7 linked regions of the Homo sapiens genome follow. The protein of the gene in region 3 purifies or fractionates together with the protein of the main gene of each other region. This does not show direct contact. Each region holds a gene or a part of one and is shown on either strand. Other genes may lie near its edges.

Region 1 (3,807 bases), on a different chromosome or scaffold from region 3:
TTATTTTGAGATAGGGTCTGGCTCCATTGCCCAGGCTAGAGTGCAGTGGCACAATTTCAGCTCACTGCAGCCTCTGACTCCTAGGCTCAAGCGATCCTCCCACCTCAGCCTCCTGAGTAGCTGCGCCTACAGGCACGCACCACCACACCTGGCTAATTTTTGTGTTTTTTGTTGAGATGGGGTTTTGCCCTGTTGCCCAGGCTGGTCTTGAACTCCTGGGCTCAAGCAGTCCACCCATCTCAGTCTCCCAAAGTGCTGGAATTTATAGGCATGAACCACTGCACCTGACCCTCTCCAATTTTATTCTCATATCTACTCCAAACTATTATTTTAAATTAGTTTTATGTTATTTCCATAGATGGAAATAAAATATTCACTTGTGGACTACAGTTGTGAGTACCTAACTCCCTCACCCAACAGTTCTTTTTTTTTTTTTTTGGCTTAATAAATAAGCTGGAGGACAGCAAGATAGAGATGTATATAAAGGGAGTTGGATGTTTCGAATAAATTGAAGAATCCATGTAATCACAGGGCCCAGATGGTCATTGCTGGGTTGTCATCTTTTCATTTGTCCTCCCTCTCTTCCCTTCTTTCCCCAGGGCTTTGGGAATCTCCCCATCTGCATGGCTAAAACACACTTGTCTTTGTCTCACAACCCAGAGCAAAAAGGTGTCCCTACAGGCTTCATTCTGCCCATTCGCGACATCCGCGCCAGCGTTGGGGCTGGTTTTCTGTACCCCTTAGTAGGAACGGTAAGTGCATGCTGCAAGGGAGTAGTGGGCGCATCTGCACTTCTCGTCTGAAGTGTGTTGCCGAAACCATCAAGCAAATGCCAAGTGAGCAGAGTTCACTGCCCAGAAGAAAATTGGAATCGGGCCTATTATGATTGCTGTGGATCATAAGCTATAAAGCAGGAGCTATATAGCTCTTGCTGTGGACCATCTTGGTGTCAAATCAAGAATGATGCCAGGACTACTCATACTGAATAAAAAATTCTGTTTCCCAGGGACAGTATGCTCTTCACTGAATCTAGGATGAGCCCAGTTGATAGGCTGGGGTAGTGCTAACATAATCACAGTTAATGTTTATTGGGAGCCTTACATAGATTAACTCAGTCCCCCCACAGCCCTAGGAGGTAGGGACAGAGGTTTTACTGACAGGCCTAGAACTTACGTCTGAAATTCAGGGGGTTCATTATTTTTAAGTAAGGAATTTCCCCATTAAAAAATGCAAATGGACCCTTGAGATATGAAAGGTGAGGTTGCTTATTTACGCTTCAAGGTGAACAAGGTGTCCATTGCTTTCTTATCTTACAGATTTTATGCATATTCAAAGAAGAATATTGCCAGTTGGGAAGCAGAGGGGAGGGATGCTTAAGGACATAATCATAGTTTGGGCTGACATTGTTCCAAGGTTAACTTGGATCCTGAATCTAGGTTATCCCCTAAATCTGCCCTGTATCCTGTATCTACAGATTGTACTGCCATGCAATACAGGACTGAAATATTAAACTAAATCAACACACATGGAAAAGAAACCAACATACATCCTTTTGGATTTATGTCATTCTTTCAGTATAGTAAGAAAGTGGTAGGAGGTGGCATTATAGAGTTGAAAACGTAGGACATTAGAGCTGAATTCATTTTCACCTCTTCAGATCTTGGCCTTGGGCAAATTATGAAAGGTGAGAGCCCTGCTGCCCTCAGCTCACACTGTAGGCAACATCATCACATCACAGTGGTGCTTAGCACAAATGCCTGCATCTCACTGCCTCCTTAGCTCTCTATAGAGAGCAGAAGGCTTAGACTTGCTATGATGTACATCAGTCTCCAGGATTTGTAGAAATCCCTTGTGGTAGGAATTTTCCACCATTTTTACCCAGCACCTTGAATAGTGCAGAAATATGTGTTGTTCTTTTTGGAGAAGTTGTCAGCAGCTACCAGCTGAAAGACGGGTAGCTGTACTCTTTCTTGTCACTTTTGATCTTCACATGAAGAAAAGGGTAACAGTAGAGGTGAAAGCAAATCTGGAAGCAGTCAGGCCAGTGAGAGTCAGGCTGTAAGGTGGAGAGAGACACAGCCTGCCGAACTCAAGACTTTCTCATTTAGAACAAAGTATGTGTCAGAGGCTTTTAACTTTAAGTTGGACCAAGGCGTTTCCACACATGATCAAATGGTTTAATCACTATTCTAACACCTTCCAGTTGCCGTTGGGGCCTTAACGAGACTCAGATTATTTGAATATTTTCTATATTAATTCAAAGTGTGATGGCTTATTTTCAGAACTTTATATCTAGGTTCATACATGTGCGTACACATAATATTGTCTTTTTTTGTATTTTTTCTGATTATCAGTGACCAGTGTTTAGGAGGGAAAATCCTCTTGGGGAATGAGTGAAAATATCAAAAATCCTACTCATCACTGTTTAGGGAACCATCTTTAGGGTTTTCTGCTGACATGCACATGCCCGTCTACAACAATGGGCATGTGTCTTTTATCTTTATAATGTCATCTTCCGGTTTTTCTGCTGTGTCTAAGGACCCATCCTTTCCTCTCTCCTACTTGTCTCACACCTAGCACCTCCTTACCTCTTACACAATATAAGAATATAAACCAGTTGTCAGATCCCTATAATGTGTTTTGGGGAATATTGATTGGTACTCAGAAGTCAGTCAGAATGAGGTTTTCTAAAGTATTGATGATGTTTTGTGTTACAGAAGATGACTCTTTTTAAATAACCTTTTTATAGTTAAGTTTTAGAAGTAACCTAAGCTGTTTTCCTGTCTAGATTTGATTTGGAACTTGTGTGTATTCATTATATAGGACATTGTTACAGATAAAAATATACGGAGTTTTCACTTGCAAGCCGTACATATTTGCATCTAAGTAGAAATTTGTCAAAGCCGAGTCTTTAGAAAAGTAGTGAGTACAAATATAATTTGTAAGCATTACAAGTTTAGTTTTAGAAGGCCATTTTGGGCCAGTAAGAATGGTGATTATAAAACCATCTAGATTATGTACAAAAGTGTCTTGGCCCAAGTTAAAGGATACTAACTCCTACCATCGTGTTGCTGAAGCAAAAATCACATGGGCAGCTCAGCTAGCAAGACTGAACGAAACAAAATTTAAAAGCAGGCAAGCCCTGTACCTCCTTTTGGTCTTGCAAAGCGTGAGCTGAGGAGGCGAGTGAGCAACTCCTCTACTCCCCAGCACTCATTCTTGTAAGGTGAAGGTGGAAACACCTCCTGCTACTGCTTGTGACCACATGGAAGATGATAGTGAAGGCTGGCATTTGGTTTGCAGAAGGACATGAGGAATCAGTTTCTTTTCTTTTCCTTTTTTTTTTTTTTGAGATGGAGTCTTGCTCTGTCACCCAGGCTGGAGTGCAGTGGCAAGATCTCGGCTCACTGCAACCTCCGCCTCCCAGGTTCAAGCGATTCTCCTGCCTCAGCCTCCCAAGTAGCTGGGATTACAGGCACACGCCACCATGCCCAGCTAATTTTTGTATTTTTAGTAGAGATGGGGTTTCACCATGTTGGTCAGGCTGGTCTCAAATTCCTGACCTCAGGTGATCCATCTGCCTTGGCCTCCCAGAGTGCTAGGATTATAGGCATGAGCCACCACGCCCGGCAGGGATCAGTTTCTGAGTTTTTTAACAGGATCAGTGACTTGATTTTTAATATGTAACAAGAGTACCCACTTTATTGACAACTATAAAATGATGTTCTATCTTTATGCCTTGGGCTTTCTTTCTGAAGGAAAAGTGAAAGTAAAGATGACTTTACGTTTATTTTAGACATGGCCTTG
Region 2 (4,221 bases), on a different chromosome or scaffold from region 3:
AATGCTAGGATTACAGGTGTGAGCCACTACGTCTGGCCCCTTCCGTTTATTTCATCTGTAGGTTTTACCCTTCTGCTAGGGGCTCAGTCTGGGGGAAGATGGCCCTTGGACTAGAGTTCCTCTTGCCGGGCCTCCTAACTCTATAGCATTTCTTCTGCTCTGCAGGACACTGTCTCAGTGCATCGCCCAGGCTTCTACGCTGAACGGTTCCAGCGCTTCATGTGCAACACAGTATTTAAGAAGATTCCCTGTAAGTGGTTTCTACCAATTGACTGCCTACTCCTGCCCAGTGGCTCCCTTACCCCAAGAGAACAGAGGGCAGGACACCTCTGGTAGGGAGCTGCCAATGCCAGAGGCCTCTCCTTCCACCTACATCCCATGAGAGCCATTTCTTGTCCTTTGTGTTAGTCTGTCATAGTCATTTCCAAGTTGCTGTTTCCCCCTTGGCTCTTCCTGCATATGTCAATGAGGTGAGGACCATTTCTGGGGAATTGGGATTTGCAAAAAAATAAATAAATAAATAATGTGTAGTTGTGGATGTAGGATCCATGCCACAGAGATAGGCAGAGCCTATGTACAGAGATACGCAGTGAGGTTAATGGTGTTCTGTTTTGTCTTCTAGACTATCTCAGGTGGTTACAGAAGCATTTACTGATTTCTGCTTAGCACATGTTTTTAGTCTCTTTTCTCAACTTTCTTGTTTAGGAAGTGCCAATATTTTTTTGCAAATCTTCCATGCTGCTGCCATAGCAAATTCTAGCTTCTCTTTCCCTTCTTCTCATATTAGGCATCATTATTCCCATAGCGAGGGAGAGGGGACCTAGGCATGCCAGTCTTAAGGGATATGGAAAAACCAGGCTGGGTGCAGTATCTCACACCTATAATCCCAGCACTTTGGGAGACCAAGGCAGGAGGATCGGTTAAGCCCGATAGTTTGGAACCAGCCTGGGCAACATCATGAGACCTTGTCTCTACAACAAATTTTAAAAAGATAAAAAAATCTTTACAAAGTGATAAAAATTACAAGTATCAATTATTTAGTGCTGGGCACATACATGCTAAGAAAATGTAGAGTGAAAGAGTTATCTTTCTTGGCCCGGCACGGTGGCTCACACCTGTAATCCCAGCACTTTGGGAGGCCAAAGCAGGTGGATCACCTGAGGTCAGGAGTTCGAGACCAGTCTAACCAACGTGTTGAAACCCTGTCTCTACTAAAAATACTAAAATTAGCCGGGTGGTGGTGAGCACCTGTAATCTCAGCTACTCAGGAGGCTGAGGCAGGAGAATCACTTGAACACGGTAGGCAGAGGTTGCAGTGAACTGAGATAGTGCCATTGCACTCCAGCCTGGGTGACAAGAGAGGAAACTTCATCTCAAAAAAAGTTATCTTTCTCAGGTTTTACTATAGGATACTATTAAAGAAAAAGGGGGGCCAAGCGCAGTGTCTCACACCAGTAATCCCAGCATTTTAGGAGGCCGAGGAGGGCAGATCACAAGGTCCGGAGATTGAGACCATCCTGGCTAACACGGTGAAACCCCGTCTCTACTAAAAATACAAAAAAAAATTAGCCGGGCATGGTGGTGGGCTCCTGTAGTCCCAGCTACTTGGGAGGCTGAGGCAGGAGAATGGCATGAACCCGGGAGGCGGAGCTTGCAGTGAGCCAAGATGGCACCACTGCACTCCAGCCTGGGCGACAGAGCAAGACTCTCGTCAAAGAAAAAGAAAAAGGGGGCAGGGCAGTGGCTCATACGTATAATCCCAGCACTTTGGGAGGCCTAGGTGGGCGGACCACCTGAGGTCAAGAGTTCGAGACCAGCCTGACCAACATGGTGAAACCCCGTCTCTACTAAAAATATAAAATTAGCTGGGTGTAGTGGCGCATGCCTGTAATCCTAGCTACCCAGGAGGCTGAGGCATGGGAATCACTTGAACTCTGGAGGTGGAGGTTGCAGTGAGCCAAGATCGCGCCATTGCACTTCAGCCTGGGCAACAAGAGCGAAACTCCATCTCAAAAAAAAAAAAAAAAAGGAATTATGCAATAGGGTACATTTCATCTGATGGAAGTAAAGCAGTCATCAAGGCTCCATGTTGGGGGGTTAGGTGTGGATATGTTTCCTTTCTTCTAGGTTTTCATGCCTCTTGGAAAGTGAAGTGAGCTAACACCTTGTTCTCTGAATAGTAATTCATAGGCCTGTCTTTGTTGACATTAGCCTTTTCACTTTTCAGACCAACTTTGGGTGTGTGTTGGGGATACTAGCAATTATTTGTATCTATGTCTTGGTAATAGTTGCTAAGGTAGTTGCTAAGTAGGCTCTCTCTTTCCCTTTTGAAGTGAAGCCTTCTCCTTCCAAAAAGTTTCGGTCTGGCTCATCTTTCTCTCGGCGAGCAGGCTCCAGTGGCAACTCCTGCATTACTTACCAGCCATCGGTCTCTGGGGAACACAAGGCACAAGTGACAACAAAGGCAGAAGTGGAGCCAGGTCAGCGCTAGGGCTGGGGTCCCCATGTGATTGGGTACTCCCTCCCTTCCTTCTGAGCCTTTATCTTGTCTGGCCAGGACCTCTGCTCCCATTTCTATCCAGGAAGCCTAGCTGCTACATATTTTTCCTTGTATTTACTGTACCCCATCTTCTCTATCTTTTTTCCAGGCGTTCACCTTGGTCGTCCTGATGTTTTACCTCAGACTCCACCTTTGGAGGAAATCAGTGAGGGCTCGCCTATTCCTGACCCCAGTTTCTCACCTCTAGTTGGAGAGACTTTGCAAATGCTAACTACAAGGTTGGTTTATTGGCCCCTTTCTCCATATAATCTTATCTCTCTTTTCAAGTCCTTGGAAACCTCTATAATTTGATTGCATCATAATAAATTACCCCAAAGATTAGTGGCTTAAAATAACAAACATATATCATACTTTCTGTGGGTCAGGAATCCAGGCCCAGCTTAGCTGGGTCCTCTGGCTCAAGATTTCTCATGAGGTGGCATTTAAGCTGTTGGCCAGGGCTGGGGTCTCATCTGAAGGCTCAAACAGGAAGATCTGCTTTTAAGCTTATTTATGTGGTTACTGGTAGGATTCTGTTCCTTGTGGGTTGCTGAACTGAGGGCCTTAGTTCCTTGCTGGCTGTTGTCTGGGGGCTTCCCTCAGTTCTTTGCTACATGGACTTCTCCATAGGACAGCTCAGAACATGGCACCTGGGCTATCTGACAAGTGAACAAGAGAGCATGTGCCTATGCAGAAACCATGGCCTCTTATAACTTAATCTCAGAATTGACATTCTACTTGTGCTACATTCTGTTCACTAAATGCAGCCCACACTCAAGAGGAAGGAATTACCCATGGGTGTGAATACCAGGAGGTGCAGGGATCATTGTGAGCCATCTTAGAAACTGCCTGTCATAGTCTGCTCTCTGGTCTCCAGTAATTTACATACCTCCATGTCGAAAATACACTGACCCCCTCCCAGGGTCTCATCCCATTGTAGCGTTAGCTCAGAGTCCAGAGTTTTATTACCTAAATTAGGTCCGGTTGGATGAGCCCCCCAGGTATAGTTCCTTAAGCACAGCTCCTCAAGTACAGTTCTTCTCAATCTGTGAACTTGTGGAACCAAAGAGACAAGTTATCCTTTCCCCATGTACCTAGCATACAATGGTGAGACAGGCATTAGATAACCAATATACACATTTCTGTACATAAAAGGGGAGAATGGGAGGCACAAAAAGGAGTCATTGATTTTATTTGCTGTTCCAAAATCCAGGAAATGTTGGAGTTTCTTTTATCAGGCCTCAAAGCAGAAGAATAATTCTCCGTGGTTCTTGGCTCTACCCTCTAGACTCTTGGTTTTGTCTTCTGAGTCTTCCTTTTTCATCAAAGCTAGAGTGTGTTTTTACCTGAGTTCTTTTCTCAGGCTGCTTCTTTCCAGTAGAATTTTAGGGGAACTAGTGGTCTCTATTTTGTACTGTTTCTGTCCTTTTTGATCCAAGATGGCAGTGTTTCTACTGATACAGAAGATTTTGTGGGCCTCCTGTGATTCTCCTTGGGATTTACTCCATTAGACAAAAGCCACACTCATAAATATCTTCTTTATGAGACCTAAGCTTCTTACAGACTCTGTTTTTCGGTTGAAAGGATCTGTGAAACATAATCTTCTGAACAGCCTTTTGTATGACTGAATAGCACAATCAGCCCTCCGTATCCACAGGTTCCACATCCCAGATTCAACCAAC
Region 3 (4,221 bases):
TACTTTCACATTATCTCCTTAACACTTTACATTTGCTGACTTCATCACATTTTTCTTTTTGTATCTGATGTGTCAGTTCTGAGATGAATTGGTTCTGACTTGGACATGTGTCTTGGACCAATCATGCTACGTGTCCTGACCTCAGTTTCCCCACCTGTGAAACAAGGAGCGGGGAATCCGGGCTTCCTTTCTGCCTGGGCCTTTTGTGTGTCCCCAAGCTGGTGCCAGAAACAGACGGATTGTGTAACCTGACCAGCCATACGTTGTTTGTGAGCCACAGGAGTCCTCTCTCATCTTGGCCCGTCAGGAATGGCCCCTAAACATCCCAAGGCATTTTCGTTTTCAAAACTAACCTGGGGCTTAGAGCTTCAGGAACTGCTAATTACCAAGGCTTTCCATGGTTGCAAGGCTGGCAGCCTCAGGTTGTGATTCTCTTCTGTCTTCCCACTCTCTCTTCTCAGCCTTTATATTTGCTAAGGGATTTTCCCTGCTGTCTCCTGGCTTGGAAGAATGCACGGTAATCCCTCCCTGCTTTTATTTCCATGTGGTTAGAGGCAGGCCTTAAAGGACCACCCTGGTCTCCGTGTGTCCTTGGTGTGAAGGTCCCATCGGCCCATGGAAACCGTGGAAAGTAACCCCCGTGATAGGGGCCATGTGTGGCTTCTGTCCTCAAGGAGAGGACGGTGTAGTGGAGGATGGCCAAATGGGTGTTTAAAAAAAACAATCCAAGTGCAAGGCTCTGGAGCCAGACTGCTTGAGGTTAAATCCTTGGACTTGTGACCTTGGGCAAACACCTTAACCTGTTTGAGCCTTATTTGTAAAAAGAGGGATGTTAATAGGTCCTATTTTATAGGTTTTTAAAGAAGATAAGTGAGTTATAGAAATTGATGTAAAGCACTTAGAACAGTGTCTGGCAGTAAGGTATATAAATATTGGTTATTATTGTTGTTGTAGGAAAATTAAATAATACAGATAATTAGGGTTGTGGGACTTCAGCATCCAGAGAGCAGGGGTGATCAGAGAGGGCTTCCTGGAGGAAGTGAGGTCTGAGTTAAGTCAGCACTGAGAGGAGGATGGGGGCTCTGAGTGAGTTTCCTTTTGACACCCTAAACTCCGGCCACAGGAACCAGTGGTTTTGTTTGGTTCCAGGCCGAGGGCTTTGTGGTTCCTTGAGAATCTTCCCATCTTTCCCCATCTCCTTCAGGAACTGGGTTGCACTCCCTCCCTCATCTCCAGGGAGTCCTCTGAGTTTGGTGTTTTGCGTGTGTTTATTAAATAATCATGAAAAGGCAAGGACAGCCCTTTCACAGAGATGCTGGATCGGTCTTGGGGGAAACAGTGCCTGGGGTTTTGACTCAGAACCTTGGCTCGAATCATTTCGAGGCCCTGGCTATGTGGGGTACTCCCCGTGTGCTCTGGGCAGCGTTAGTCATGATGAAAACAATGACAGTCATTGCTGTGCAGGAACTGACTTTGATTCATCACTTGCCATTCTAAGCACTTTGCATGTGTCAACTCATTTAATTTTCTTTATGAAGGGGATGCTGTTTTTATCCCCATTGAGAGGTGAGGAAACTGAGGCAAAGTGAATCTAAGTGAGCTGCTCTGGGTCAGGTGGACAGCATTGCCAGGATTTGATCCTAGGCTGCCTGACCCCACAACTCATGTCCCCAGCCACTTGATAGACCGCCTTTGGCTGATCCAAGAAGGGCTTGGCACATGATTTATTAAGGTGGCAGAACTGGGATTTGAACCCAGGTCTGTGTGATGTTTCACCTCCGCCTGCGCTTCCTCCTGTTACTTGCCCTCTGTGACTCCCATTCTTTTCTCCACAGAATGGGAAGAACTGTGGACGGATAGAAATGGCAGGCTGCCGAGTTCTTGCTCTGGGCTCCGGGTCTGTTCATGGCACGAGGGTTGAGTGAGGCTCTGGAGTCATGCTGCTGGTGTTCAAATCCAGGCTTCTTCCACTTGGACTGTAGGTGACCTTGGGCTGATCACTGACTTGCTCTGTGCCTCAGTTTCCACATCTGTCCAACGGGCACAGTGTAGCACCTGCGTCACAGGGATGTGGTGAAGCTTGCCCCCCACTCCCCTAGAGGAGGCTGAGTAGACCTTGGGCCCACCTGCCAAGGGGAGGCACCTCAGGGGCAGGTGCCAGTAACTCCCATGATGGGGTGTGTCAGCTGGGCAGTGGTCGAAAGAGAAGAGAGGGCCTGGGTGGGTGGGCAGAGAGGCCGGTGGGTGGGAGTTGGTCAGCAGCTCCTCGAAGGTCTCCCCGTGGCTGAGGACAGAGAGCTATAGAGACACAGAGGGTCTGCCCGGAACCGACCAGGATGGGAGTCTCTGAGGAACAGGGATTGTGGGCAGAAAGCTCCCAGAATGCTTTCTGTGGTTCTGCTTTTTGGAGGGAGGAGACAAAAGTTTTTCTTCTCATTGGAGCTCCGCTTGCCAAACAAGAAACTGTGGTTTTTTGTTGTCACTATTTTTTTTTCTGTTTTAAAAGATTCTGTACTCCTAGTCTCACACTAGGGAGAAATGCCACGGGTGGTTGGGGTGGGGGCAGGTCTTTGATTTCACAGTCATTGAGGCAGAGGGACCTCCCCAGTAACTTGGGGGGATTTTCACGTGGTCCTCATATGAAAAGTAGGATGCTGAGAGGTATATGTAACACAGTTCTTTTGGAAAATAAACAATAACCATAATATACACGTGTGTTATATGTATAAGGTGACATTAGGTTGGAGAAAAGGATGGAAGGATGTGTATCTTTTACAGAAAGGCAACCAGGAAGATAAGGAAGTAAAATCCTGTTTATAATACCCTTTTCATATAAAATTATGCATATGTATGCGAATATATTTTTTAAGAAGCCGACAGGAAGAATTGTATTTTCAACATGGTTATTAGATTAATGCAACAGTAATAATGGTAACAATTTGCTAATATTTATATACTTGCAAGCCCTGTTTATAAGTTCCTTAAGCATTAACTCAAAAGTTGCAGGTATTCTTATGCTTCCTGTTTTACAAATGAAACAAAGACACAGAGAGGCCAAGTCAGTTTCCCAAGGTCACACAGCCTGACAGAACTGGCACTTGGACCCAGGTAATGCGGCTGCATGGCCCACATTCTTCACCACTATCCTGAATTGCACCAAAATGAGGCTGTGTTCATGAGCAAAATTACTGCCCCTGTGAGACCTCTGGGCTGCCCAGGTGGGCAAGAATTAAGTCAAAAAGTCCACCTTATTTCAGTTTTCAGATGCCGGAGAGCCTGGAACAGGCCACCTTGTGTTGGGCTCATCATCATCAGGAAGTCAGTGAAAATCTTTTGATGGTAAAAACTGAGTGTCAGCAGGATTTAGATGGGTTACATTTTTTTTAATGTATGGCAGACAGAGAGCTCTGTACAGATAAAACCATGAAGATATGAGACTGCTTTTCTCTGTGTGCAGGTATTTATGGAGCATCTGCTGTATATCCTGGGCAGTGTTCTGGGCCACGAGAATGAAGTCATCAACAGGTCGTTGTCCTTATAAGAAGGACAACCCTGTGGGGATTCTACAACTCATTCTTCAGACAAACCTTCTGGAAGCCTACCTACTTTTATTCTGGTGTTTGCCCTGGTAGCAATTTAACTGTCACTTTAAGAAGACGCGAATGGGGTTGGTGTCTCTGGCTTTTGAGACTTCAGGGCACCCCTTTCTTGGAGAGAAAGATACTCCTTTATCAGGCCAGAGAGCTGAAGACCTGTTGGGCTTGGGGCCACTCCCTTTAATAAAGAAACCCACATCCTATTTGCTTCACAGCCGCTCTCCCTTAAAGGTTTTGCAAGAGTTTAAGTGTTTGAAGCAGGTCATGCCTGGCTGCAGGAGAACCTGACCTCTCCAGATTTTTGGGGCTTTTCTTTTTTTCCAACAGACACAGGCATGCTGGCTAGAATACTGGAGGGAGGTGGGTGATAGGGTGGGCTGCCCCTCAAACCTGTGTGCTGTGTCCCACAGCATCATTCCCCAGACATGGGGCCAGGTCGGAGCTGATTCCTGCCCTGCGTTTCGGAGATCTTGAACAGAAGCCAGGTGGGTCATTCGGTCTGAATCTCCTTGTTTTGCAGGTGACATAAATTGCGTCCCCAGAGGGGAGGTGAGCACCAGTTAAGGGCAGTAGCCACTCAGTTTGTTAGAGTTCCATCCCCAGATACCTGGGAAGAGAGCTTGGT
Region 4 (4,221 bases), on a different chromosome or scaffold from region 3:
GGGCAGCAGATGGGACCTCGCCTGGCTTTCTTTTTGCTTTCTTCTTTTTTTTTTCTGTCTCATCTATTTCAGGTGCGTGTGTGTGTTTTTAATCCTGGGTAAAATACACGTAACACTGATCACTGTAACCATTTCTAAGTGTGAGGCAACCACCGTGACTATCTCCACCCAGAACGTTTTCATCATCCCCAGCACAACCTCTGCACCCATTAAACAATCACCCTCCCTTCCCCACTCACCTCAGCCGCTGGCCGCTTCTATTCTACTTTCTATCTCTATGAATTTGCCAGACATAGAGGGGCGTTCGAGAGTCCCAGGTGCCTCATCGTGGAAGTGGAATCACACAGTATTTGTCCTTTTGTGTCTGGCTCATTTCGCTTGGCATAATGTCCTGAAGGTTCGTCCGTGTTGTAGCGTGTGCCAGAATTCATTTCTCTTAGGGCTGAGTAATATTCTAGTGTGTGTATGAGCCTACTGTGTGTGTTCATCCGTCTGCGGATACGTGGGCTGCCTCCACGTTTTGACTTGTGAATAGTGCAGCAGTGAGCATGGGTGTGCAAGCATCTGTTTTGTTGTTGTTGTTTTATTTTTTAAATAGAGATGGGGCTGGAGCCCAGGCTGGTCTTGACCTCGTGGACTCAAGTGGTCCTCCTGCCTCAGCCTCCCGAAGTGCTGGGATGAGAGGCGTGAGCCACCGCACCCGGCCCAAGCAACTGTCTGCTTCCATTTTTTTTGGTATATGCCTATAGGAGAGAAATGGCCAAGCGGCTGCCCACAGGGCTGGTGCCTGTGTTTTTGTGCAGTTCTTCCTGGGCTTCTCTGAGGGAGCAGAGCACGCCTCCCAGAGGGGGCCGGGTCAGCAGGGTTCGCTGGAACCCCACAGCATCCGAGCCTGAACCGACGCCTCTCTCCTTGCTTTGCCAGGTCCCAGCATGCCTTCTGAGACCCCCCAGGCAGAAGTGGGGCCCACAGGCTGCCCCCACCGCTCAGGGCCACACTCGGCGAAGGGGAGCCTGGAGAAGGGGTCCCCAGAGGATAAGGAAGCCAAGGAGCCCCTGTGGATCCGGCCCGATGCTCCGAGCAGGTGCACCTGGCAGCTGGGCCGGCCTGCCTCCGAGTCCCCACATCACCACACTGCCCCGTAAGTCCTGCTTTTGATCACAAGAGGGCTGATCCATAACCTGGAGGGCAGGAGTTTGTTACCTGGACACCACACAGCCAGGAGGACATGAGGTGTAACCCCCTGTAGTCACTCTGGATTGAGGAGCTGGGGGTGGGGCCATGCCGTGTAGATGAGGCTCTGAGAGGCCAAGGCCTCCTTACGCTGCAGCCCAGCGCCTAGGCCAGTGCCTGGCAAGACAGTGGATGCTCAGCAAGTAGTTCCAGAATAAATAAATAAATGTGCCCAGGTCACATGCTTTGCCCGGTCTGTGGCTGCGTGTGCACATTCACTGGAGGTGAGGGACCAGGATCCTGCCTGCGCTCTCTTATTTATTTATTTTTTATTTTTTTGAGACACGAGCTGGAGTGCAGTGGTGCAATCATGGCTTACTGCAGCCTCAATCTCCCCCAGTTAAGGGATCCTCCCACCTCAGCCTCCCAAGTAGCTGGGACTATGGGTGCCCACCATCACACCCAGCTGATTTTTGTATTTTTAGGAGATGGGGTTTCACCCAGGCTGGTCTTGAATGCCTAGGTTCAAGTGATCCGCCTGCCTTGGCCTCCCACAAGTGTTGGGATTACAGGTGTGAGCCACCGCGCCCGGCCCAGCCTGCACTTTTCCGTTAACTCTAGGTCATGAAGACTTCCCGTAGGCATTACATATTTTTCCATAAGGGCTGTTTTTCTGGTGGCACAGACTGTTCGGTGAAGAAGCCATCATTTTGTAAGCCCTCTACGGGGTAGATAGATGTTTGCAGTTACCTCATTTTACATAACTGCAATAGAAGATACGACACATTCATTTAGCCAACAAGTCTTTCCTCAGCGCCATGTGCATTTCGTGCCCTGCTCAAGGCGCAGAAGATCTATCAGTGGAAAAGACAAATCAACAAAAATCCCTACCCCAGCATGAAACTGAAATCAAGCTCACTAAGCCTTAGGATTATCTTTATTTCCTTAGTGTAATCTTGGAGGAGAACAAATAGATCAAAGAATGTGCTTCTTAGATGTTTGATTCCTTTTTTTTTTTTTTTTTTTTTGAGACAGAGTCTCGCTGTCACCCAGGCTGGAGTGCAGTGGCGCGATCTCAGCTCACTGCAACTTCTGCCTCCCGGGAAGCGATTCTCCTACCTCAGCCTCCCTAGTAGCTGGGATTACAGGCATGTGCCAGCACGCCCGGTGGATTTTTATGCTTTTAATAGAGATGGGGTTTCACCATGTTGTCCAGGCTGGTCTTGAACTCCTGACCTCAGTTGATCCACTCGCCTCGGCCTCCCAAAGTGCTGGGATTATGATTCCTATTTTGTGTCCACCACTACCAGCGTTTATGGTTGTTGATTTACAGTTCAGAATGGGTGGGGGTGGCTGGGTGTACTCTCAGTGCAGCAATAGAAAGAAAGAAGTGACAGTGGACAAACCCAGAAGGTCTGAGTGTCAAACATACTCAGTGCTGGGAGCTCAGGAGGCCAAGCAGATGTGTGGGCAGCCAGGAGGATGGGCTCTTGCTGCCAAGACAAACCCAAGAGAGCAGTGGGTGAGAGGCCCGGTGAGGTCGGGAGTGGCTGCTGGAGGGTGGAGTGGGCAGGGAAGACAGGCCCGATTCCTGAGGGCTCCGTGAGCTCCTAACTCTAGGGCATGAGAAGGAGACGATGCCCTCCAGGTTGTAAATGGCGTTGCACCTGCACCTCACATACTGGCCTCATTCATCCTCCGAAGACACCCCCATCCTGAGACGCAGAGCCGACGCCGCTTGTCTCCAGTCGGAGGGCCCCTGAGAATAGTGGCGTTGCGGGGAGGTGCTGCAGAGGTGGGTCAGGAGTTGGAGGTTCATTCTAGGACAGTGGCGTGTCCTCCCAGGAGCCTCTTGGGCTGTGGAAGTGGGAGTCCTTGAGATAAGGGGCTCCAGGGCTATCCCTGCAAGTCACATCCTTTTTCTTGCTAAGCGCTCTGGGCCTGGCCCTGATCACCTCTGCAAACTTCTCAGGTAACTTCACAGCCACCGAGGCCCAGTGCTGAGTCAGCACACCTGCTGCAGGGAGGCGGGACTCTTCCCGCCTGGCTGGCCAGATGCCCGAACTGAATTAATGAACTAATCCCCGGCGCTGTCACCCTGGGGCTTGGCTTTCCACCTGGCCCTGGCTCTCTACACCTGCCAAGCCTGGTTCCCTTCTGCCGAGAACTGCTTCTGAGGGAACCTCCCTGGCCCCTGTACAGTTTGGGGACCTGGCAGGACTGCCTTCTGCTCCCCGGGAAGGGTGCGATTGGATTCCAGCTGCTCTTGTTGGCGCCTGTTTTGGCCTTCAGGGTAGCTCTCCCTGCAAATGTGGCACTCCCTCCATGGCACAGGACCTCTGGGAGCTGGGTTCACCCCAGGTCTAAGGGTCGCCTCCTGGGGGGCAGGACCCAAGGACCCTGGCTGTTCAGCAGGTGACTGTGCTGAAGAGGGGGCCCAGGGTTAGCCACGGGGTGTCATCGGAGCTGCAAGGCCCAGGGAGGGGTTGCGGGTCTGGAGACCGCTGTAAGCCATGCGTGTTCCCAGATGAGTATGTGGTGAGCTTGGTGCAGATAGATAGGGGGTGTCATCAGCATCTCCCTGGGGGAGGATGGCAGGGGCATGAGGGCCATTTAGGAAACCACCTGGACCAGGGTTTGAGGGTTTACACAGCCAGATGCTGCAGGGCAGGGCATCACGAGCCTGGCCGACAGCGCCTCTGCCGGGGCTCTGAGTCTGCCACGTGCCTGACATTTTCTGTGCAGGGCTAGACATCCCGCCTGCGCTTTGCAGCCATTGTCCCTGGTCTAAGGAGTCTCTGCCCTGACACTTTTTTGCTTCCTATGGTCACATGCTGAGAGATGAAAGGAAATGTCATCTCCAGTAAAGCCTTTCTGAAAAGGTGGACCTAAACCTTTGTTTTGGAGTCAGTATTTGCTTATTTTAACTTTTTTATTTGGAAATAATTTACTACTCACAATAAGTGGCAAAAATAATAGATCCTTTGTACCCTTCTCCCAGCTTCCCACTAACAACATCTGCCACGACTGTAGGTTCATTTTCAAACC
Region 5 (4,221 bases), about 17 Mb from region 3:
GTGTTCGTCAGTGCTCATGCTCCCAGTTACCAGTTCTCTCCGTAGCCTGGCCAGCTCCTCTTTTTTCTGCTCTTCCTCCTGTAGTCTGGCCTCCTCCAACTGCTGGGCTTTCTGGGCTTCTACCTCAGCCATTCTCTTCTCCAGCTCCTGCCGCTCTTTGGCTCTCTTCTCAGTAGCCAGCTGAAAAGGTTCCTGAACTAGAGAACCAGAAAGGCCCTCTAAGTACAGAAACAGAAAAAATATTGGTGCACAAGCAGGACTTGCATAAACCTACGCCCCCTGGAATGAGCAAGTGGCACAGACATGCACACTAACAGGAAGACTGTGCTCTAAACAAGCCCCATTGGGAGAAAGGTAGAGCCAACTAAATACAAAAAGTTTTAGAATTTTAAGAGTTCAAAGGGCCCCTGGAAATCGTCTGGTGTAATTGGGAAAAAGGCAAAGACATAAAGTAGCTTGCACAAAACTATATAGTGATTGATTTTGAGGCAGACATAGAAGAAAGATCCCAATATTCTTTTTTTCCCTTTTTGGAAAGATTTTTTTGAAAAAGAGATGGGGTCTTGCTATGTTGCCCATGCTGGTCTCAAATCCCTGGGCTCAAGTGATCCTCCTGTCCGGGCCTCCCAAAGTGCTGGGACTACAGGCATGAGCCACCACACCCGGTGGAATCCCAGTATTCTAGCACACTGCCCAGTGTTTAAGGAATCAAATGTTTTATATCTAAAGTTTGCTTCAGGGTGAATTCCAGAAAGCCATACTGGCTCTCCCTCCCTCATTTACTTGTTTCTCTGTGGATGGGGAAAACCTATCATTGTTGTTGAAATGCCAGCTGCTTCTGCCAAGGTTCATGTTAAATGAATCTGGCCCTAACACATCCTGCAACTCAACATAGCTGCTGGGTTCAATAAAGGCAAAAAACTGGGTCTAGGGGAAGAAAAGCTACCATCTGCTAAAGTCAAATGCTTCTAGTTGACACAGCATTGTACTGACACACTGAATTCCAGCATCCCACTGGGAAGTCTGACAATTCTGCCCGAGTCCCATCAGAGTACATATAATACTACCAGCAACTGATTTCTTCTCTTTCTTGGGAACAAAGGGCTCCTGAGAGATGACGGTGTTTGGACGAGCCTTGAAACAAGCTGCTTCTTTCTGCTGTCTCAGTTCTTCTTCCAGCTATTAGAGAGAAAGTCAGTCAGATGAGCAATGTCTCACCTTTCTATGACCACTACCTCAATAACTTAAGTTCTAATGTCTGAACTGCTTCATCAATAAAAATAGCAGATTTAATATAAACCCTAGTAAAAATCTTTCACACAAACTTTACAATGAACAGATCAGTCTGACAACATTTGAACTCACTGAGAACTAGAAAGCATTTTTAAGATACTTTTAAGATTCCCAAGTTTGCATTTTCGACATTAAAGTTTACTTTTTTTTTTCTTTTTAGTTTATGTTCACATTTATTTTTCTTATTATTATACTTTAAGTTTTAGGGTACATGTGCACAATGTGCAGGTTTGTTACATATGTATACATGTGCCATGTTGGTGTGCTAAAGTTTACTTTTAAATTAAAAAAAAAAAGATTCCAAACACAAAGAAATGATAAATGTTTGAGATTATGGATATGCTAATTACCCTGATCAGATCATTACACATTATACATATTGAAACATCACTATGTACCCCAAGAATATGTACAACTATTATTTGTCAATTAAAAAAAACAAAAAATTTTAAAGGTACTTTTAAGACCTATCTTTATATCATAAAAATAAACAACTAGACATTTTCTGCCTTCACACATGATTCATTAGGAACTATACAGTATCACCTATAAAGTATTCTTCCCACCTCCAAAAAAAAAAAAAAATCTAACCAGAATTGAATCAAGCCTCCAGATCTTACTACTCATTTATAGGAAATACAAGCAACAGAGGAACATGTTAGACAACTGTGTGGGAACGCAATCAGCAAAATCCAGATTGTGGAAAATCTACAGTACAAACAATCCAGTTTATTCAACAAATAAAATGCAAAGAGAGGAGCCTATAGATTGAAAGAAGATTCGGAGATTTAGCAAACAAAGGCACTATGTAGACTATATATGGATATTGATTTTAACAATTCAACTGTTTAAAAAATTATGAGAAATGTGCAGATATTTGATTATTTTTAATCTTTTTAAGTGTGAGAATATTATTGTGGTTATAAGTCTTTATATTTTAAATATATACACTGAAGTATTTTTGGATGAAAAGGGATGTTACATAGAATTTGTTTCAAAGTAATCTTACACAGGTAGAAGTATCCAGTGTAAGATAAGTGGGTAGAAGTTGGGATGAAACAAGACTTTTCATGTTTTGATCACTATAGAACCAGGTGATGGGTTCATGAAAATTCATTATACTATTCACCCTACTTTTATATTTCTGAAAAGCTTTTTAAAACAATTGTTTTTGTTGTTGTTCTTTGCAGAAAATGCCCTACACAGACATTCTGTGTCTTGGTCATTGAGAGGGGAAAATTCACTATTTCCAAGGCAACAGTCCTAAGGTTTCTTAGAGAACCACACTAACAGGGGACCAACGTTCAGTCATGTAAGCCATTACAACTCTCGGGCTTCAGGAGGGGTAATTCCTACAAACAAACAATAGCCTAGAGCTCCTTTTGGAAAGAATCCAAGATTAATGATGACATAAAAATCCAAAAAACTTAGAAATTCAGGGGAAATTTTTTCCAGCCACGTAGAATTAGATCCCAATTAAATCAGCAAATAACCAATTAATTGTTTTAAATCACCTGTCATTTATAAAGAGCAAATAGCACATCATGCTGAGAAAACAGCATTGTATATTTCAATCTATTCTCCCATACTGTTTCTTACCAATGCATCAACAGAAAGGAATAAACACAATGAATGAGTCTAATAGATGGAATAGATAAGATCTTAAAGAAACTCCCAACTCCAGAAAAGCCTGTCGGTTCCCACATTCCCCGGGTGATCACTTGGAGCAGGGGACATTCCCAGGTGATCACTTAGAGCAGGGGTCAGCAAACTCTGGCCTACAGGCCAAATCCAGCTTGCAACCTGTTTTAGGACAGCGCTTGAGCTAAGAATGGTTTTTACATTTTTAAAGAGTTGATTGGGCACAGCAGCTCATGCTTGTAATCCCAGCACTTTGGGAGGCCACGGTGGGCAGATCACTTGAGATCAGGAGTTTGAGACCAGCCTGGCCAACATGGCAAAACCTTGTCTCTACTAAAAACACAAAAATTAGCTGGGCGTGGTGGCACGCGCCTGTAATCCCAGCTACTCGGGAGGCTGAGGTGGGAGAATCACTTGAACCTGGGAGACGGAGGTTGCAGTGAGCCGAGATCGCACTACTGCACTCCAGCCTGGGTGACAGAGCGACACTCTGTCTCAAACCAAACAAAAAAAGAGTTGAAAACATGTAGCTGGGTGTGGTGGCTCACACCTGTAATCCCAGCACTTCGGGAAGCCGAGGCGGACAGATCACGAGGTCAGGAAATTGAGACCATCCTGGCTAACACGGTGAAACCCCATCCCTACTAAAAATATAAAAAAATTAGCCAGGCTTGGTGGTGGGCGTCTGTAGTCCCAGCTACTCAGGAGGCTGAGGCAGGAGACTGGCGTGAACCCAGGAGGCGGAGCTTGCAGTGAGCCGAGATTGTGCCACTGCACTCCAGCCTGGGCAACACAGCAAGGCTCTGTCTCAAAAAACAACAACAACAACAACAAAATGTGTGCGTACACACACACATACACACACACACACACACACACACACACACACACACTATGCGACAGAGACCATATGTAACCTACAAAACCTAAAATATTTCTTATCTGGCCCTTTACAGAAATAATGTGCTGACCCCTGATTTACAGTGAGAGCCCCTGAAACAATGTAGCATGTTAACCCAGGTGATTTCAGTATGGTGGGTCTGCCTGTACAATCAACCAACCAAGCAATTAACATTTTGGCTGCTCTCCCCATCCCCTACCTGGTGCTTCCAAGTCTGTGCCTTCAGAGCACCTCTTCTGTCAGTCTCCAAGCAGAAAGGTTCAATCTGGGTCACATTCTTTACCTTCTTCTCTGGCAGGTTAATGGTGTCAAAATGAGGCAAGGGAAGTGCCTTGAACTTGGGCACCTAACAGAAAAGAAAACATGAGGTTTAAGATAAAGACTAG
Region 6 (5,017 bases), on a different chromosome or scaffold from region 3:
AATCTATGATGGAACTTATAATGAATATTTGCCTATTTTCTGATCTATGGGGTTCAGGAAAAGTTCTCATTTAAGAGATTTTTACACAATAAGGTTGACTTTATATTCAAGGAAGTTCCTCCTCGCATCGGTTCTTAAAACACACAATTACAATAACAGAAGTTCTCTAAAACTACATTTTATTTTAAACGAATATTTATTTAAAAGCACATGCTTTCTGTTTTGTCTGCCTTCTTAATTCTAGCTACACACTGCTGCCCTCTGCTGCAATTTCAATCTTTCACACTCACAAACCCGACCTAGTTTCCATCTATACAGGTTATCTGACTCACTGCAAGGGTTATGTGTGTGTGTGTAGAGAACAAAAGGGAAGGCTCCTTGAAAAGAAAACTAGGAACTAAAGATGTTGGCACAGTTCAAAAGAGCCCATCTGAGAAGTGGGCCTTTTTTTTTTTTTTTGAGACGGAGTTTCACTCTTGCTGCCCAGGCTGGAGTGCAATGGCACGATCTCGGCTCACCGCAACCGCCGCCTCCAGGTTCAAGCGATTCTCCTGCCTCAGCCACCCGAGCAGCTGGGATTACAGGAATGCACCAACATGCTCGGCTTTTTGTTGTTGTTGTTGTTGTTGGTTTTTTTTTTTTGTATTTTTAGTAGAGACGGGGTTTCTCCACGTGGTCGAGCTGGTCTCGAACTCCTGACCTCAGGTGATCCGCGAGAAGTGGGCCTTTTTATGGATCCAGCAACAAACTCCCAACCTCCCAGGAAAGGTTGCTTCCTGTCATCTATATAAAACTTTGTGTCTCAGGCCTTTATTGCTTTTTTAATTGAAATAAATTATATATATATGGTTTAAAAAAAAAAGAAAAGGAAAAAGGGTAAACAGCAAAGAGGGTAATCAATAAAACATTTGGCTTCCACTCCAAACCTCTGAACAGTTTTGTGTATCCGTCCAGAAAGCGTATATATTATTACAAACATACACAAGGGGCATTTCTTTTTGAACACAAATGTGAGTATTCCTACCACTCTTTACCATTCTAGACTAACTTGGACGTTGTTCCCTATCAGGCGAGATTAACCCAACTAAATTAAAACCAAGTAGGTTTTAACAAAACAGATTTTAAAGAAATCAATCTTCTCTCCAATAGGTTATTTCTGTCACGATTTAATTAGCTTTCTGTTACTACTAAGGCTTGTATCATATAAAGTAGTGGTTCTCAGGCTGGGCGCGGTGGCTCACGCCTGTAATCCTAGCATTTTGGGATGCCGATGCAGGAGGATAGCTTGAGCCCAGGAGCTGGAGACCAGCCAGGGCAACGTAAAGAGAGCCCCCACCAACACCCCCCGCCACCCACCACCACCGCCCCGGAAAAGCAGTGGTTCTCAAACGTCAGCGGACATTGGTATCATCTGGTGAGCTTATTAAAACAAGAGTCTCTGGATTCAGGAGGTCTGGGGTGGGGCTTGAGAATTTGCATTTCCAATAAATTCCAAGCCGGAACTCCAGGAAGATAACCTGCATTCCGCGCCTGGCGAAGCCCAGCTACGCCATTTCCTTCCTAGGCCCCGCCTACTTCGTGTCCCTGACAGCCAGGGACTGGCTAGAGGGCGCGCGGAGTCACGTGAGTCGAGCGACCTCGCGCGAGAGTTTGTATTTCTCGCGAGACTTCACCGTCTCTGTCTTTTCCTCCTTCCAGTGCCCGGCGTTCCTCCCTTCCCCCTCGCCGCCGACCGAGTTCTTCCTTTTCAGACCGGGTCGCCTTGCTGTCGTCGCGGTGATTTTCCTGCTACTGCTACTGCTGCTGCTGCCACCGCCACTACCACTGGGCTCATTTGCCCCGACCCCTTCCCGCCGCCCCGCCCCCAGCCCCACACAAGGTAACAACCCCCCTGAGGGAGAGAGTAAGGCCTGGCCGGGCCCGGGTCCCTCCCGAGGTGAAGCGGAGGCCCAAGGCTGAGGAGCCCGCCTCGCCGGAGACGCCCAGGCGCTGGCCCTGGATCCCGGAGCCACGGCCGTCTCTCAGCCAGAGCTGAGCCTCGGCGGCCCGGCCGGCGCTGGCCTCCGTGCGGCGGCGGCAAACACGGCCCGCAGGGGACCGGGTCGGGTGGGGCTGGGCGCCGCGCGGCTCCCTGTGGAGCCTGCCTGTTGGAGCGCGGCGGGGCTCCGGCGGTGGTCTTGGAGCTGGCGTGTGGATTTCCACGTCCGAATGATCGAGTTGTGGCGGGCTTTGAGGTGCTGCGTGGCGGGGAGGAGAGCAGCCTGGGTCGCTGTAACTCTTAGGGGGCCTTTGCAGGCTCCCAGCCTTTGGTTGGACGGGAATTTTACGAAGGAGAAGGGTCCTCGGAAACGTGGTACATTTGCTTATAAACCATCAAAAAAGGTTAATTGGTATCTTATTTTCAGGAAAATGACTGAGCTGGATTTGGCGAAAGGCACATTCGTTAGAATGCCTAAATGGGAGAGTACCTGTGCTGTTCTTTTTGCTGAAGATAATGCACCGATAAATATTTAAGCGACTGGGCGAAAGATTTTTGTTTTGGAGAGGCACTTTTAAATACACTCTTAATTGAATAGTTCAAGTAAAGATCGTAGTTTGTGTAGTTAATTTAAAAACGCACTTGTTTGGCTTTGGAAGCATACTGTAGTGCTTAAAAATAAGTATTTGGATTGTTTTTGAAAGTTTCGACTTTTCCAACAGAGTAGTGCTTTTTAAAAAGATAACACTGATTATTGAGCCGAATTCAGCACCTACCCTGTGGATAGGAGTTAAAAGAAAATTAGAAATTTCTTTGTATCTGTATGCTTTTTTAAAGTATGGAATGTATCTCAAGTTTATAATCCTCAGAATCTGTTGCCTTTAAGTTTGTGGTTTAGCTGAAGTCTAAACTGAGAGTAAAGGTAATGGTGGTAAATTAAGCTGCAGTGTTAGAAGGAGTTAGAGGCAAAAACTGGTAATTCAGGCAGACAGGGGAGTTAGTTTTTTATGCCTTGATTTTTGGTTTAGTTTTCATGGTCTAACCCTTTTTATTTTCCCTAGATGTCAGAGGATTTAGCAAAGCAGCTGGCAAGCTACAAAGCTCAGCTCCAGCAAGTTGAAGCTGCATTATCTGGAAATGGAGAAAATGAAGATTTGCTAAAATTGAAGAAAGATTTACAAGTAAGTATGGGTAGACAATTGTACTTTTTCTCTGTTTTTCAAATTATTGCTTGAATCCCTAAGTACCCAAAGCGCCTTTTGAGGGGTTACACCCCACCCTATGTATATATGTAAATTCTGTAGGTACCATTGCTTGTAGAAGTAGGGTTGCTTCCCCAGTTCTCAGGTTTCTGTACATCAGAGTGAAATATTGTTCTTTGTTATATAAATCTTGTGTGCTTACATAATTTTTAAAAACTAAAGTTGATAGAAATTTCCAAGTCTGTCAGATTTTCAAGACGAGAGGTACATGTAACTTCACAATGAAAAACGCTTTTAGTTTTTAAGACCTGGCAAATGAAATTTAGTTCAAAAAGTAACAAAGATTGAAGGAGAAAAATAGAACCTTAAGATTCTTTTTAATACCACAAGATTCTTTGAAAATGCGTGCCTTTTTTTTTTCCCCAAAGCTAGTGGATTACATTTTGTATTGAAAACACACCACAAAAATGCCTAAAGAGAGACAAGTGCTTTGTATAATTGTTACATAGATGTTCAGACTTAAGGCTAGGTTTTACAGTAAAGTTGTTGACACTTGTGGAAATTGAACTATGTGGTGAAAAGGAGATCTTTGTCATGGTAGAGTTTAGTAGATAATGAAACCTTTTTTTGAAAACCTGCACTGGGATTTCAAGACAAACATAGAGCCATCATAGTAAATACCTTTTGTGTTTCAGGACACCAGACTGATTCAGAAAAATGCCATATATAATTTGCAAATATATATGACTTTTAAGAGCTTCCTTTAAATTCTGAACCTGATTTTTAAAAAGTTTCAAGGGTGTTTTGATTAGAGATTGCTTTACCGACTGAGTACTAAACTCAAATCTGTATCCTGTCTAAAAATTCATTCCCTCCCTTTATTATCCCACTGCCCGTTAAAACTATTACTATTTTAGGGATATCAGAACTGCAAACAAACTTAACGGAAATAGGGTCCGGATTTGGGATTCTGGAACTGCTTATCTGGGCGTAATTAAGATGAGTTGAATACTTTCAAGTTCTACATTTAGAATAAAATTGCAGTAGTATGTTATTTTTAAACACACACAAACTATCTGGGTTAATTTCAATATGAACAAGACCCCTCTTCGATACGTAGAAGCCAGGCCTGTGGGCTTCAGGGTGCCAGTCAATACAAAAAAGATGTTTTGGGAGCAGTTTCTCCCACTCCCAGGCCCTTAAGTGAGAAATAACCCAGTGGTTTGCCACCTGTCCATTTGATTTGCTCATATGTTGTGAGTATACATTGAAGATGAGGCAACAGAGGCACACCGACCTCTTATTTTCTTACACTCTGTAAAGTGCTTTCTGTTTGCCCCAAAGAGAGATGCCTTGACTACCTTTACCAACTTAAGCAGTCCTTTTTTAGGAAAAGAAAACACTGGGTGCCAATGTTTTGTATATTGCTTCTTGGGCAGTGGGAGGAGGGGTATTTGTTGAACTGGTTGGGTTGGGGAAGTTGGGAGTGGAGTTAGAAATAGCATTATCATCAGGTCTTTTTAATATTTCTAGAATAATTCCTCATTAGAGTCTGAGCAGAACTGCCTTACCATGTCATGATCATCATAGTGGAAAGTACTGTAGGGGGAAACCATTGTGATAAACACTGTAGTAAGCCCCTAAAAGGCTTGCTTGCAGGGGTTCAGTTAATAATGACCTGGAAATCATTTTTCTGTAAAGTATCCTCTTTTCTATAACCATTTAAAACAGCACTGTCCAGTAGAACTTTCTGTGATGATGGAAATGTTCTATATCTGCTATTCAGTACCATAGCCACTAGCCACATTTGGTTGGATATTTGAAATACAGCTAGGTT
Region 7 (3,768 bases), on a different chromosome or scaffold from region 3:
AGGAGCTATGCTGCTGAAGGAGGAAAGGGAAAGGCAGGTGGGGCCAGACCCTATTGGCCATCTGACCAGCCTTCCCAAGCCCACGTGAGCAGATCTAGGGTCTCAAGATTACAGAAGGCCTGGGGTGAGGGAGCAAGAGTTGGAAGTTCTTTATAGTTGTCTGAAGAGCCTCATTGTCCAACTGCAGGGGCCTGAGGTGCCCAAAGCTTCGTGGAAAAGTAATGTCAGTGGAATGCTCAGAAGTGGCTCTTTTCAGGGCACGGCTTCTGAGGAGCGTGGGGCCACCACAGCTAGCCCTCCCTCCGTCTAGCCATCCTCTCCTTCCAGTCCCTTTCCCATCTTTTCTCTCAAAGGAGCATGGTAGTGATCTTCATTACCAAATTTCTACTCCACACTTATTTTAAAAAGCTTTTCTGAAAGCCTGGCTACATAGAATTCTAAACAGATTTCAGTCAACTTTTAATTAGAGTCAATGAATGGGGAGTAAATACACAGATAATCCAAAATTGATGTAAGCATTGGAAGGGGAAAGAGGGAACGCTTCTTTCCCTCTGGGCTTGGTCATTTCCTCCCAAGCAAACCCCGCGACGTTCAGCCGTCTTCCTCCTATGCCACGTGCTCTCACCAGAACTGCAGCAAAACTGCATTTTATGTCCTGTGTCTAAAGCTAAACACATGTTCCTGTCTACTTTTGCTTTGTTCCTGTTTCCCTTCTGTGAGGACCTTCCCCTCCTCAGATGTGGGGAGTTGCCGCCTCCACTTGCATTACATGTATTTCAGAGTAGGTCCTAGGCTCCCCTTACACCTCTGGTCACGTTGCCATTATTCCTATGGTAGATAAAGGGGATGAGAAAGAACAGAGCTCCAGGCCTTTTTCAAACAAACTGGTTTTCTCAGTATAGCCCTATGCTCAAAAGGAGTGAGGACAGGTATGTGACTGCCATAAGGAGCTGTTTGCTTTGCACAGAGAAATCTAATCTTTCTCCTGCTGGGCAGCTCAGTACAGATGTCCCCTCACTGCTGGAAGAAACACCTGCCCTTGCTTGTTCTCCTGATGGCCCCTCACAGTCAGGTGTGGGATGGCACATTTCTAGGTGCTCCTCGCCGAGCTGTCATGGGCTTCAGTCTTGGGCCTCTGCAGCTGGCTGTGACCAGGTGGAAACTGTAGCCTTGGCTGACCCAGAGAAGGAAAGGAGGCAGTCTGCCGCTTGGCTGATTTAGGAGTTGTGCTGAATTCCTGCCCATCTGTTCTCCCAGCTGAGCCAAGGCCAAAGCTGTCTACCTTTTGCCAACCTAAGGAATGACACAGAGCATGGAGCACCATCACTGAAACATCTGCCCCAGTGCCCTGCCACCTTCGTCCTCACTGACCTCTGCAGCCTCTCTCATCTGCCAGTTTTGATTCCGCAAGGAGAGGTGGCCCTGGGCTCACAGCTGGTGTTTGTCCACAGATGTTCATGGGTTTCTTTGTGTTCTCTCATTTTTTCAAAGCTGGGTGTTGGGACCAACATCACCACTGACATTCTGTGGCTCTAAACAAGTCCTCACGACCACTTCTCAGTTTTCTCATCTTTATGAAGTATGGAGTAATCCCCACTAGCCTTATAGAGGGACTGTGTGAGAAGGGAAGAGACTGCTATTGTTTGCCCTATATCCACCTACTTCCCTAGTTCCAGAACGCTGGACTTTAATGAGATAACAAAGTACCTAGTAAAAACACTGCATCATTTTCCATCCCCCACCCCTTGCAGTAAAATGTGGCCCATGAGACAGAAGCACTAACTACTGAGCAGGACTTCTAGGGGAGTTCTTTAAAACTCAGAGGAGCACCACTTTTACCTTCTGCTCTTCCCTTTTTCCTGCCTGGAACGCAGAAGTGATGGCTGAAGCTCCTGAGGCTATAAGCTCTGTACGTAGGAGAGTGGTGAAGAAAGGAGCTTGGTTCTGCAAGGATGTTGTAGAGCTGCCATACCAGTCCTGCATGGTATTCCTGTGCACTACTGTTACGTGAACACACAAACACCTAATTTGTTTAAGCCATTAGGCCAGGCCTCTATTAGCCATTCCTGACTGATACAGAAGACAAAAATGGCATCACAGACTCCTGAACTCCAAAGACACTGCCTATTCTTTCGTCTGTTCTTGGCAAGCACCAACATTGAGACTGTACTTCAGGGTTGATGCTGGCCATTTGGTGGCGTGAGGAGTGGGCACTCACATGTCTCTGCTAGCAGTTCTGACGTGTCCATTCCACACTGGATCCATAGAACGAGGGAACACAAGTGTCTTCTCATAAGATTTATAGAAACAGTGATCGTTGCAGAAAAATAATTAGCAAGAGAACAGACTTCAGCTCTCTGAAGGCTGATGACCACCTGTTTCTCATCTCTTCTAGTGTATGTCAAAGCTAAATTAGGTCAAATAGGAAATAAGTCAGAATCCCCAATTCGATAGAAACTTACAGGTCTTGTGATCTAATCTGCCACTTGATCCGTGAATTACCTATAGGTCATCCCTAAGAGGTGGCCTCCAGCTTCTGCTTGAATTCCTTCAAGGATGGGGTGCTCATTGTGGCTTTTCTAATCATCTCTGATTGTTAGAAACACTGTGAAACTTTTATCCATCAGTCCTGTTTCTGAAGCTGTACGGTACAAATTTTTTTTTTCCCCACTTAAGGCTCAACTATTGGAATACATCTACCATGTCTCCTATGAAACTTGCTTCTCCAGGCCAATCATCCTTACTTCCTTAAACTTTTTTTTTTCCTGAAAAGTTATTCTTTTAATCTTATTAAAAAAGCAACCCATGCCCATTCCACAAATACAAGTGAAATAGTGAAAAACAAAAATCAAACTACATCTATTTGGTGATCATTATTAATGTCTTATGTTTCCTCCCAGATTGTTTTCTGCATGAATAATAACCAACAATGTGTGTGTATGTATATATATGCTTTTGCATTAAAAGGTGGTTTTGAAGGTAACATTTTTTGGAGTACTGATTAAGCGCCAGCAACTCTTCCAAGCTCTTTGCATGTATTACATCAGTTAATCCCTCACACCCGTTTAAGGTAAGCATCCTTATTTTTCCCGATTTCCACACAGGCAGCACAATCCTGAAAACCTACACTGTTTTTACTAGATAATTACTTCTCTAAAAACAAAACAATAAAAGCACTCAATAAATAGTAGTTATTATTACCCTTTTTAATGAAGCAATCCTAATTGTTGAACTCTTAAAAGGACTAAGGGATGGCTCACACCTGTAAATCCAGTGTGTCCGGAATTGGTAGGTTCTTGGTCTCACTAACTTCAAGAATAAAGCCGCGGACCCTCGCCGTGAGTGTCACAGGTCTTAAAGGCTGCGTGTCTAGAGTCTGTTCCTTCTGAAGTTCGGATGCGTTTGGACTTTCTTCCTTCTGGTGGGTTCCTGGTCTCACTGGCTTCAAGAGTGAAGCTGCAGACCTTCGCGGTGTTACAGCTCACAAAAGCAGCATGCACCCAAAGAAGTGAAGAACAAAGATTCCACACCAGGACAGAGTACGAGGAGATGCCACTGCTGGCTCCAGCAGCCTGCTTTTATTCTCTTATCTGGCCCCACCCACATCCTGCTGATTGGTCCATTTTACAGAGAGCCGATTGGTCTGTTTTACAAAGAGCTGATTGGTCCGTTTTGACAGGGTGTTGATTGGTGCGTTTACAATCCCTAAGCTAGACACAGAAGTTCTCCAAGTCCCCACTAGATTAGCTAGATACGGAGTGCTGATTG

Evidence for each region.
Region 1: the proteins of PREX1 (region 3) and MTHFD1 purify together in Homo sapiens (affinity purification with mass spectrometry, with the first as the bait; one study listed by BioGRID). This does not show direct contact.
Region 2: the proteins of PREX1 (region 3) and PIP5K1A purify together in Homo sapiens (affinity purification with mass spectrometry; one large-scale study listed by BioGRID and IntAct). This does not show direct contact.
Region 4: the proteins of PREX1 (region 3) and CBS purify together in Homo sapiens (affinity purification with mass spectrometry, with the first as the bait; one large-scale study listed by BioGRID). This does not show direct contact.
Region 5: the proteins of PREX1 (region 3) and TPX2 purify together in Homo sapiens (affinity purification with mass spectrometry; one large-scale study listed by BioGRID and IntAct). This does not show direct contact.
Region 6: the proteins of PREX1 (region 3) and SMNDC1 purify together in Homo sapiens (co-immunoprecipitation; one large-scale study listed by IntAct). This does not show direct contact.
Region 7: the proteins of PREX1 (region 3) and UTP25 purify together in Homo sapiens (affinity purification with mass spectrometry; one large-scale study listed by BioGRID and IntAct). This does not show direct contact.

Annotation. Positions count from the first base shown.
Region 1 is NC_000014.9:64,454,124-64,457,930, forward strand, and holds part of MTHFD1 (C-1-tetrahydrofolate synthase, cytoplasmic), read left to right. Parts: intron 1-599; coding exon 600-752; intron 753-3,807. UniProt on the Homo sapiens protein: Trifunctional enzyme that catalyzes the interconversion of three forms of one-carbon-substituted tetrahydrofolate: (6R)-5,10-methylene-5,6,7,8-tetrahydrofolate, 5,10-methenyltetrahydrofolate and (6S)-10-formyltetrahydrofolate.
Region 2 is NC_000001.11:151,239,790-151,244,010, forward strand, and holds part of PIP5K1A (phosphatidylinositol 4-phosphate 5-kinase type-1 alpha), read left to right. Parts: intron 1-165; coding exon 166-250; intron 251-2,333; coding exon 2,334-2,480; intron 2,481-2,648; coding exon 2,649-2,778; intron 2,779-4,221. UniProt on the Homo sapiens protein: Catalyzes the phosphorylation of phosphatidylinositol 4-phosphate (PtdIns(4)P/PI4P) to form phosphatidylinositol 4,5-bisphosphate (PtdIns(4,5)P2/PIP2), a lipid second messenger that regulates several cellular processes such as signal transduction, vesicle trafficking, actin cytoskeleton dynamics, cell adhesion, and cell motility.
Region 3 is NC_000020.11:48,821,266-48,825,486, reverse strand, and holds part of PREX1 (phosphatidylinositol 3,4,5-trisphosphate-dependent Rac exchanger 1 protein), read left to right. Parts: intron 1-3,842; exon of another isoform or gene 3,843-4,081; intron 4,082-4,221.
Region 4 is NC_000021.9:43,068,905-43,073,125, reverse strand, and holds part of CBS (cystathionine beta-synthase), read left to right. Parts: intron 1-924; 5' UTR 925-932; coding exon 933-1,141; intron 1,142-4,221. UniProt on the Homo sapiens protein: Hydro-lyase catalyzing the first step of the transsulfuration pathway, where the hydroxyl group of L-serine is displaced by L-homocysteine in a beta-replacement reaction to form L-cystathionine, the precursor of L-cysteine.
Region 5 is NC_000020.11:31,794,362-31,798,582, reverse strand, and holds part of TPX2 (targeting protein for Xklp2), read right to left. Parts: intron 4,182-4,221; coding exon 4,035-4,181; intron 1,180-4,034; coding exon 1,068-1,179; intron 219-1,067; coding exon 31-218; intron 1-30. UniProt on the Homo sapiens protein: Spindle assembly factor required for normal assembly of mitotic spindles. Required for normal assembly of microtubules during apoptosis. Required for chromatin and/or kinetochore dependent microtubule nucleation.
Region 6 is NC_000010.11:110,301,610-110,306,626, reverse strand, and holds the start of SMNDC1 (survival of motor neuron-related-splicing factor 30), read left to right. Parts: upstream 1-1,706; 5' UTR 1,707-1,879; intron 1,880-3,039; coding exon 3,040-3,159; intron 3,160-5,017. UniProt on the Homo sapiens protein: Involved in spliceosome assembly.
Region 7 is NC_000001.11:209,854,583-209,858,350, forward strand, and holds the end of UTP25 (U3 small nucleolar RNA-associated protein 25 homolog), read left to right. Parts: 3' UTR 1-2,983; downstream 2,984-3,768. UniProt on the Homo sapiens protein: Component of the ribosomal small subunit processome for the biogenesis of ribosomes, functions in pre-ribosomal RNA (pre-rRNA) processing. Essential for embryonic development in part through the regulation of p53 pathway.